3 separate regions of the Homo sapiens genome follow, and all the other regions are reported to be linked to region 1. The links are microRNA targets in miRTarBase. Many come from high-throughput screens and were not tested one by one. Region 1 holds a microRNA gene; each other region holds the end of a gene's coding sequence.
The links. Region 1 holds the annotated microRNA hsa-miR-6071 (UUCUGCUGCCGGCCAAGGC, at 1,199-1,217, opposite strand). A microRNA usually pairs through its seed, bases 2 to 8, with sites in the 3' UTR of a target mRNA and lowers its output. Matches are read on the target gene's strand: a 7mer-m8 pairs with bases 2 to 8, a 7mer-A1 pairs with bases 2 to 7 and ends in A, and an 8mer does both.

Region 1 (3,153 bases):
TTTTTTTTTTAAACTGGAAACGAACAAAAGCATAAAGGTTGCTAAATTGTTCCAGGGTTCATAACAATTACCACAACTTCCCTGAAAGTATAGATAGACCCATTTACAAAAATGCTCAATGTTACATTTGAAGTAGGAGAAACATCTTGCAATATATAAAGCCACAGTGAGTAAAATGCCTGTGACCAAAAGTAGCTATGATTGAGTCAACCAGTATTTATTTGTTGTTGTTGTTGTTGTTGTTTTGAGACAGAGTCTCCAGAGTCTCCCTCTGACACCCAGGTTGGAGTGCAGTGGCATAATCTCAGCTCACTGCAACCTTTGCCTCCTGGGTTCAAGAGATCCTCCCACCTCAGCCTCTCAAGTAGCTGGGATTACAAGCATGCGCCACCACACCCAGCTAATTTTTGTATTTTTAGTAGAGATGGGGTTTTGCCATGTTGGCCAGACTGGTCTCGAACTCCTGACCTCAACAGATCCTCCTGCTTTGGCCTCCCAAAGTGCTGGGATTACAGGCGTGACGCCTGGCCCAGCATTTACTGAGATACTGCTGTGTGTTAGATACTGTTTTGGGCATTGGAGCTACAACAGCAAACAAAACAGGCCACGTCCCTGCCCTCGTGGAGCTGGCATTCTGACTATAAACAAGTGAACAGATAAAAAGATGATTTCTGCTTGTGATAAATGCTCCCACTTTGCCACACTGACCAAATCACCTTGCTCTGATTCAGCACGTCAGAGCAGCTGAGAGGGACCTGTGAGGCCTCCTCATCTAGTCATTCTCAAGGTTAATCTTAGCAGCAGAACCTGTTGTTTAAAGGACATCTTCGGATGGGCACGGTGGCTCAGGCCTATAATCCCAGCACTCTGGGAGGCCAAGGAGGGTGGATCATCTGAGGTTGGAAGTTCAAGACCAGCCTGGCCATGGTGAAACCCCGTCTCTACTAAAAATACAAAAAATTAGCCGGGTGTGGTGGCGCACGCCTGTAATCCCAGCTACTCGGGAGGCTGAGGCAGGAGAATCACTTGAACCTGGGAGGCGGAGGTTGCAGTGAGCCGAGATCGTGCCATTGCGCTCCAGCCTGGGCAACAAGAGTGAAACTCCGTCTCAAAAAAAATAAATAAATAAAATAAAGGGCATCTTCTGTGGTGGCGGGGGTTCTGAGGACAGTAAGCTAGGGAGTAAGCCGGACCCAGAGCCTTGGCCGGCAGCAGAAACACAAAAACCCACAAAGGGCCAGTGCTGCGGGGAATGTAAGCCTCTCGCACTGTGCCCCTCACATGGGACACAGGATGTTGCCAGGCTTTCCATGAAAGGGGTTCTGTGGTGTGGTGGTCACAGCGCGGATGCTTGCTATTCTCCATATTTGCAATTATGCACCCCCACATGCACCCCCCGCCCCCCACACACAGCCACTTATGAAGAGGTATCATTGGCATCTTTGTCTTCTATCCCTCGGCCAGAGCTGATTGGTCCAGGGGAATAAATCAGACCTAGGCTAGACCAATGGGCGTCCTCCACTGGGTCTTGGGGATTGGCATGCTGGGAGACCAGGCCAGTCAGTAGTCAGGGAGGAAGGCGGATACCTGCAAGTGGCTGTTATTAGCAGGCGTCTAGAGGGCAGGGCCACAGACTGCCCCTGCTGACCTTTGCAAGCCCTTTGCTACCTATCCTGAGACCTTCCCCCTGGTCTCTGTGAAATGCCCTTTTGTAACTTTAAGTGAGCTTCCCTTTCCTGGAGGGTTGAAGTGAGTTTCTGCTCCTCACAATGCAGTAGCAATTACACGGTCAAATCAGTTGGGAAGGCTGGCTGCAGTGGCTCACACCTGTAAGTTTGGGAGGCTGAGGCGAGGGGATTGCTTGCATCTGGGATTTCAAGACCAGCCTGGGCAACATAGTGAGGCCTTGTCTCTATAAAAAATAAAATAAAAAATTAGCCAGGCATGGTGGTGCATGCCTGTAGTCCCAGCTCCTTGGGAGGCTGAGGCTGGAGGATCGCTTGAGCCTAGAAGGTCAAGGCTATGCTGAGCCATGATTGCAACCACTACACTCAGCCTAAATAACAGAGTGAGACCCTGTTTCAAAAAAAAAAAGTCAGTTGGGAAACTGGGTCATTAAAGCCACACAAATTTGTTTACTGCAGGACTTTTCGGAGCCTTTGACATGCTAATACATACAGTGACTTTCCAAGTGGGACCAAGGTATGTGGTATTTCCCAAACTCATGGAATGCCTCACCTAGCTGGTGTTCACAGAACACCTTTTGGGCAATGCTAATCTGCCTCCCCTCCCCTCACTGTACAAGTGACGGAATGAAGGCACAGAGCGGGAGAGTGAGTTACCCAAGGTCACACAGCTGCTGAATTGCAGAGAAAGTCCTGGCACCTGAGGCCTCCTAGTGTTCTTCCCATTACATCCCAGTTGTCATAAGACTTCCTTGGATGGATGATGTATGTGCTGAGATTCTTGGACCGAGGTGGTGGTGGTCCAGTGTAGACGCCAGGAAAAGGGTGAGGTCGAGAATTGAAGGTCAGGCCTTGGTGAGAGAAACCCCTGTCTCCTTTAATCCTGGATGGTAGCTGTGGCTTCAGCGGGGACTAAGAGCCAACAGACGGCTTGGGGCTGGCCCCAGGCTGCCCTGACCGCCTTTACAGCATGCCCAGGAGGACGGCTCCAGCCAACCCAGCCTCCCCTTCTTCCTCAGGCCACGGGCAGGCTGAACAAGAGAAAAACCTTTTCTGCCCATGGCAGGGCCCGCCCAGGCAGCCAGCGCCGGGATGACGCGAGCTGTAAATCACCCCGTGGACCACAGACCCAGTGCCATCCCCACGGGTTTCCTTTCCGCTTCTTAATCCTCCTCCTCAGACTCGGTAACACAAAGCAGATTCCTGCTGGGGCCAGCCATGCACAGTGGGCTTGGAGAATGTGAGCCTGGGATTTACCACATCAAGATGCTCCCGCCTCTCACTTTTCCTTTTCTCCCTCCTGAGCCACTATTAGCTGGAGAGCACTCCCTCCCTCTGGCCCGGCTCCCTCGCCCTCCTTGGACCCCACTTCAGCCTTGCCCCAGACTTGCGTCTTGGCTGGCTGCCCCGGCCCACGGGGCTCACCAGGGCCTGTGGTTAGCAGGCCCTCCACGTCGTGGTTTGGCTC
Region 2 (3,000 bases), not on the chromosome of region 1:
CTATTCTTGCGCTTGGTGGATAGTAGGTAAAGGGGAGTGAGGAAGTCCAAGAAGTCTTCCCTCCCCAGTAATGACTCAGTTGTGAGGGTCTGATGGGAATTGAGTGTGATGAGCTGGGCTCTGGTCTAAGCTGGTTTATTTGGAAAAAGTTCTTTATAGATGTGAGAGTGGATAGCCGCCTGGCAGTACTGCCCTTAAAACAGGCTGTTTCTTCCCTAATGGCCTTTCTCCTCTGCTTCCAGGCCTTCCTAGAACGGTACCTCAGTGCGGGCCCCACCCTGCAATATGACAAGGACCGCTGGCTCTCTACACAGTGGAGGCTTGTCAGTGATGAGGCTGTGACTAATGGATTACGGGATGGAATTGTGTTCGTCCTTAAGTGCTTGGACTTCAGCCTCGTAGTCAATGTGAAGAAAATTCCATTCATCATACTCTCTGAAGAGTTCATAGACCCCAAATCTCACAAATTTGTCCTTCGCTTACAGTCTGAGACATCCGTTTAAAAGTTCTATATTTGTGGCTTTATTAAAAAAAAAAGAAAAATATATAGAGAGATATATATCTATGCCAGAGGGGTGTCTTTTTTAAAAATTCTTCTTCATTGCTGACTGAAACTGGCAGATGATTGACCAGTATCCTTTGACCATCTGCACTTTATTTGGAAGGAAGCAGGGGCTGTCCACCCTGAAAAAGAGTGACTGATGACATCTGACTTTTGTCGATGGGACTTCTCAAGAAGCCATTCCTTGGAGCTTCTGTTACAGCTGTAAACCAAAGTGGAGCTGGTGCTTCTTGGGAGCCTCGCCTTACAACTAATTCCTGCCTTTCGTCCAGTACCAAGTCCCCCGTTGCTTCTGGTCAGCCCACTTGTAGACTTCCAGGGGACACATCTTTATTCTGTTTCAGGAAACCAGTCACGACACGTCCACATATGTATTTGTGTATGTTAATGTCCAGTATCACATCACCCATGAAAGTCGTGGGCAGTTCAGGAGATACCTGCCTTCATCTTTGTTCTTTGTTGCCTTAGGTTCTTCAGAGAAAGATCACAACAAAAAATGTACACTGTCGTTTACAGCTATTAAGTGATTTGATTTTGTTTTTTTCCCAAAGAGAAAACCTACCTGCCCTGTTTCTGATCCCACCCCTCTGCTGGCTTGAAGCAGGTAACCCTTTCCCAGCCCTGCAGCTGCCCACCTGGCCTCCATGCCATCCTGCCCCCACCTGGCTGGCAGCCCTGGCTCTCCATGTGTGCCCTCCGGCTCTGTGTGAAGCCTCAAGTCAGTCCCAGCATTGTTTCCATAGGGAAGTGTGGGGTGCCCAGCAGGTAAAGCACAGGGAGAGAGGGCAGTGGGAATGCCACCTTTAGGCTGCAGCAGGAGCCCCACACTGCCCAGTTTTCCTCCCCACTGTTCTACACCAACCAGGGGAGACTAACACTGTGACTCTGGGATTGGCAGGTGCAACTTGGAGCCACTTAATTTCCTGGGGACGTAAGTTCTTCCCAAGCTTAGAGCAAGCTGCCCTGCCAAAGGAGACCAAACCATGCCAACCACGCTGGCAACTGCTGCTGTCCAGTCCCTGTGTTTTCTGACCACCGTCACTGTGCAACTCATCGCCTCTGCCACTTAGGACCAGGAAAGAGGCTGGTTTTGCTCCCACTCTTAGTTGCTGATAAAGTGGGGAGAAGGAAAATGGACACTCTACAGAGTTTGGGGAAGGGAGAGTAGGGAGCCCATCTTGTCCAGAAAGATTCATCTGTGGTCTGTCTGTTAAACACAGCTGATTTCAGTGGGCTTTCCCCTGGCCCTGGGGGAGCAGACACTGACTGGGTTGTGGGCAGAGGAGCCATCCTGGCGGAGCCCTGCTGCAGGGGAGCTCCTTCAGGAGCCCCATCCGGACCTCTTGCACTGGGCTGCCTTTGCCTCCATTTGCCTTCCTGTATCTGCAACAAACCTTTTAAAAGTGTTCACTCTTGCTTTTTCCAGTATTTCGGTAATCAGCCATCTTGCTGTAGTACAGGATGACATTGTCGAATGCTCTTTGTATGTGTGCACACCCCCTTACTCCCTTACTGCTTCATACACTCCACAAGTGGTACAGTATTTTGTGTCATTGTAAAAATCAAAATTGGCTTTGGATCTTTGTAATACACCTGTACCTGAAAAAGTAAACAACATTCTTCAATTACTAGCCTTCAGCTTGAAAAGACATGCTGGAGAAGAAGGAAGGGGGAACCCATAGGTGTGGCGTGGAGCCAAGATGTACTATTCAACTATGTGTTTCTGTTTATAAAAAACACATACCATGGAACCATGGTGCTTTTGTTCTTAGTTTTTGCCGTTAGATCCCTTCAAACTGGAAGTTCCTTACAATATCTTTCTCAGGAAATATTTTGGGAAATGGGGTAAGAGATGGCAAGTGTGAGACGGGCTGTGTCAGAGGTTGCTACGTCATGGATACAGTGCAGTTCCAAGTGCCATAAGTGTATGTACATATAGTTAATAATGACACTGTTCATCACCATTCTAAAATACTGTTCTTCCAACCCTATCTTCAATGACCAGTCCAGAAGGGGTTAAGCTGGATTCATTTGCTCTGGCATGTGCATTCCCAGCAGGGTGAAGAAAGGTTTAAATTAAAGAATTTATTTTCTCTCTCCCCCTTCCTCTTTCTCCCAGTCTTTGCATAGGAGAATGTTAGACATTCAGAAATTACTGTTTCTGTTTTAAATTGAGTATTGATTTTTTTATATTGACTTTGTATTGAGTTCTTTTTGAAAGAATAACAAAATAAAATGCAGGATCTTTGTAAAGCCTTTGCACTTTCAACCTCTTTATAGCTTGAGTTACTTTTGCAGTGGGAACAATGTAAATGACATTTAAAAGATTTAAGGTTTCAGAAAGCTGCATCCCACAATTGAACACAATGCATTTTTATTTCAATTCTTGGAACTGGTAGGCTATTCTTTTTAAAAGGGGGTAAACTTCGCCCTAAGGC
Region 3 (3,000 bases), not on the chromosome of region 1:
TATTATAGTGTGACTTGAATGTTGACACTGATGTATATAAATAATGATTGTGCTACCAGCCTTTGGTTAAGACCTAAAAATAATAAGTACGCTTTCAGTTTTTAAGTATAAGGTTTTTAATTAAAAATACTTCTATCTTTTGTTTAGGTTATGCCAAGGTCTAGAGTGGATGACCTCCCGGATTGGTGTGAGATAACTTTTTTGCTTGAAAGAGACTGCTCTATTTATTCTGTGACATGAACATTTTTTCCTAGTACCTTTGGCTGCTAAGGCAGCAGCATGTTTAATTTATAACAACACAAACCTCTGAGAGCAACACTTGAATCAAGTGCAGCTGAACTGGAACATAAAAGATTTTTTCTTAACTTTTTTTTTTTAACACACTAATCTTCAGTTGGATGAATGTAATGTATAACTATGTTTTCAGCAACAATTCTTCTGTTTATTCTAATTAATCAGTGACTGCCTTGTAAGAAATGTTTGTCATATGCGTGATGTCTTCTGAAATATTCTTATAACCTTAATGACCAATTGCTTTCAATTCTTGACCAGCACTCCCTCCCAACCAGAGAATTACTGGTTTGATAGAGTAGTCTTGGAAACCATCAGGTACTGCCTGCAGACTTCTCCAGCACTAAATATATTTGTTCCCTCTATAAACCATTCATCTTTCGGACAGAACTTACTGTAAAGAAAGAAATCTGCCTAGAGGATATATGTAAGGAAGATTCCACATCATGAGTACTTGCCTTTTAACTTTCCCCCACATTACTGTTGAGTCATGGAATAATGTTTAAGTTGTTATTTGCATGGAAATTAAGTAGGCTGTTTATTTATCTAAAGGAATCAAGTCCACTCTTCTGCCTGCAACATTTGTTCAAAAACTAACCAAGGTAAAATATTTATTTGAAAGCCCAACTTTGATGTTAAATATTCTTGAATAAATCTGTTATTTTAAGAATATCACATTATTCAATGCATATAAAACTATCAGAAGTTAGTAAATCATACCAGCACTAAAAATAAGACAATTGGAATATATTTTAGCATCAGTTTACAAACAACTTTATTATCAACAGAAATTTTAGCTCTTTTCTTTGCAAGATATATCACAGCTGCTTTGGGCAGTAGCTGAAGCCGAAGTATGAACAGTCCATTTTGTTTCTTAAAATTTGAAGTCGTGTCTGTCATAGCATTTTTACTACCAGCAGTATGTTACTTAAAAAACTACATGGCTTTCCTTGAATTTATTTGACGGTATTATGTAATAGACTTGAAACAATTGCCATCTTTGTAGTTATGCCTTGGGTTCTAAAATGTTATAGGAAACTGCTGAATTGAATCCTAGCTTTTAGAATATTAATAGGAGACTCAAAGTTAATATTCTTAACAACTTAAAATTAAAAAAAGTCATAATCTATCAAAAGTTTATTTATTGGATGGCATTAAAACATTTTTGAGGCAGTTGTCTAATATGAACAATAATCTAAACAATATATTCCTTAAATTAAGAGGAAAGACAAGTGTCGTATTTCGATCCTGTTTATTCAAATGTGTGATTTTGCTGAAATGAAAGGGATAAAATGAATACTTAGAGAATAATACTTCATTTTTGCAGTACTTTTTAATTTTGATAAAAAAGATACAAAGTTCATAATATCAAAATATGTGTTCAAAATTGGTATTTTAATTTTAATATTTTTGTAAGTTGATTTAAATTTTGCTCTTTTTTCAGGTGTGCTTGGTTTATTATATTTAGTCAAGTTAATTTAGTCGAATGTGGTAACATTTTTCTGATTTATCTTTAGTTGGAGCACACCCTTGAACTGAACAGTGGCCAAAGGAAAGCTTTCTGGGCTTTGGAAAGTAGTTGTTTAACTTTGTTTTAAGCCGTTTTCTTAGTGATTCTGTATCAAGTAGAGGATAAGTGTAGTTTAACTTAGTTTTTAATATAACCCATAATCAAGAACATGAGCGAAAAGCAGACATAAATCGATATGGATGGTTTGTGGTGTGTGTGGGATGTGGGGGAATTAAGAAAATGCCATTTACCTAAGCACAGTTTGCCTGAATTTCTGCTTGGTTGTGTTGTTTACCGTAAGTACTGAGGGTAGTTTCCCTAAGTCTGTCCTGAGAAAAAGCATACTTAGTACTCCTGTATTTGTTCTTATGAAATGACTATCTGCCTTCTTGTATCTAGTAAGATTGGCTGGCTCAATTTTCTTCTGTCAAATTATATGGTTATTTTTTATATTACCACATCAGCATTATATTAAAAGTGTTTTTAATAGTTGATTGTATTTTGCCAACTACTAGTATAGACTCAAATTTGCTATTTAATTTTTAAAATACAATTTATTTTGTAAATCCTTTAAAAAATATTTGGTTAGTTTTGGATTAGAAATGATTTATGTTAGCCATGTGTTGAAGATGAAATTGGCATCAGTGTAGACGGTGCTGATTGGGAAAAGTTCATGATTAGGAAATTCATGTAAGACTTTTTAAGAGTATTTTTTAGGTTTTCACTCAATCTTTCCTGTCACAGTAACGTGAAAACTGATTATTCTTTACTCCAAGAGAATGTTTTAACCCAAGCAAGTATCTAATACTAGAGCATTGGTTCTGACATTCATTGTAAATCAGTGAACTGTAAGATACTGTCTAAAAAATGTACATTTGTAATTAGTGCCTTTATTCATATTTTGAAATAAGTTCTTAGTTTTATATTATACCTGTTCTTTAGAAGTCATGTTAGCAGCTAATTATTTCAGTGATGAAATAATTTGTGTTTTATATCCCCCTTCACCTCCATGTATTGGTTAGCACAGTTTATAGTAAGTGAAAAGCAAGGGACCCACCTACATTACCTTCAGGAGACTGTTCTACCTTTTAATTTGAAAACAAGGAAATTAAATTTTAACAGAAATCTTTTAAGTATGTTATAACCAAAGTGTTCAATTATCCTTGCAAGTTCAAATACAGCATTTTTCTTAATTTTGA

Region 2: miRTarBase lists VANGL1 as a target of hsa-miR-6071. The part of its 3' UTR that is shown has no 7-base or 8-base seed match.
Region 3: the mRNA of ARL5B is a reported target of hsa-miR-6071. The part of its 3' UTR that is shown has no 7-base or 8-base seed match.

Annotation. Positions count from the first base shown.
Region 1 is chr2:85,782,459-85,785,611 of GRCh38, forward strand. MIR6071 (microRNA 6071) reads right to left here and starts at 1,219; the gene lies at 1,142-1,219. The region is part of intron 2 of ATOH8 (atonal bHLH transcription factor 8); the gene reads left to right.
Region 2 is chr1:115,690,877-115,693,876 of GRCh38, forward strand. It overlaps VANGL1 (VANGL planar cell polarity protein 1), which reads left to right. Exons shown (of 8, transcript NM_138959.3): 8 at 243-3,000. The coding sequence ends at 503. Among named protein-coding and RNA genes, the nearest start is that of VANGL1, 50 kb to the left of the region's middle.
Region 3 is chr10:18,675,021-18,678,020 of GRCh38, forward strand. It overlaps ARL5B (ARF like GTPase 5B), which reads left to right. Exons shown (of 6, transcript NM_178815.5): 6 at 148-3,000. The coding sequence ends at 196. Among named protein-coding and RNA genes, the nearest start is that of ARL5B, 17 kb to the left of the region's middle.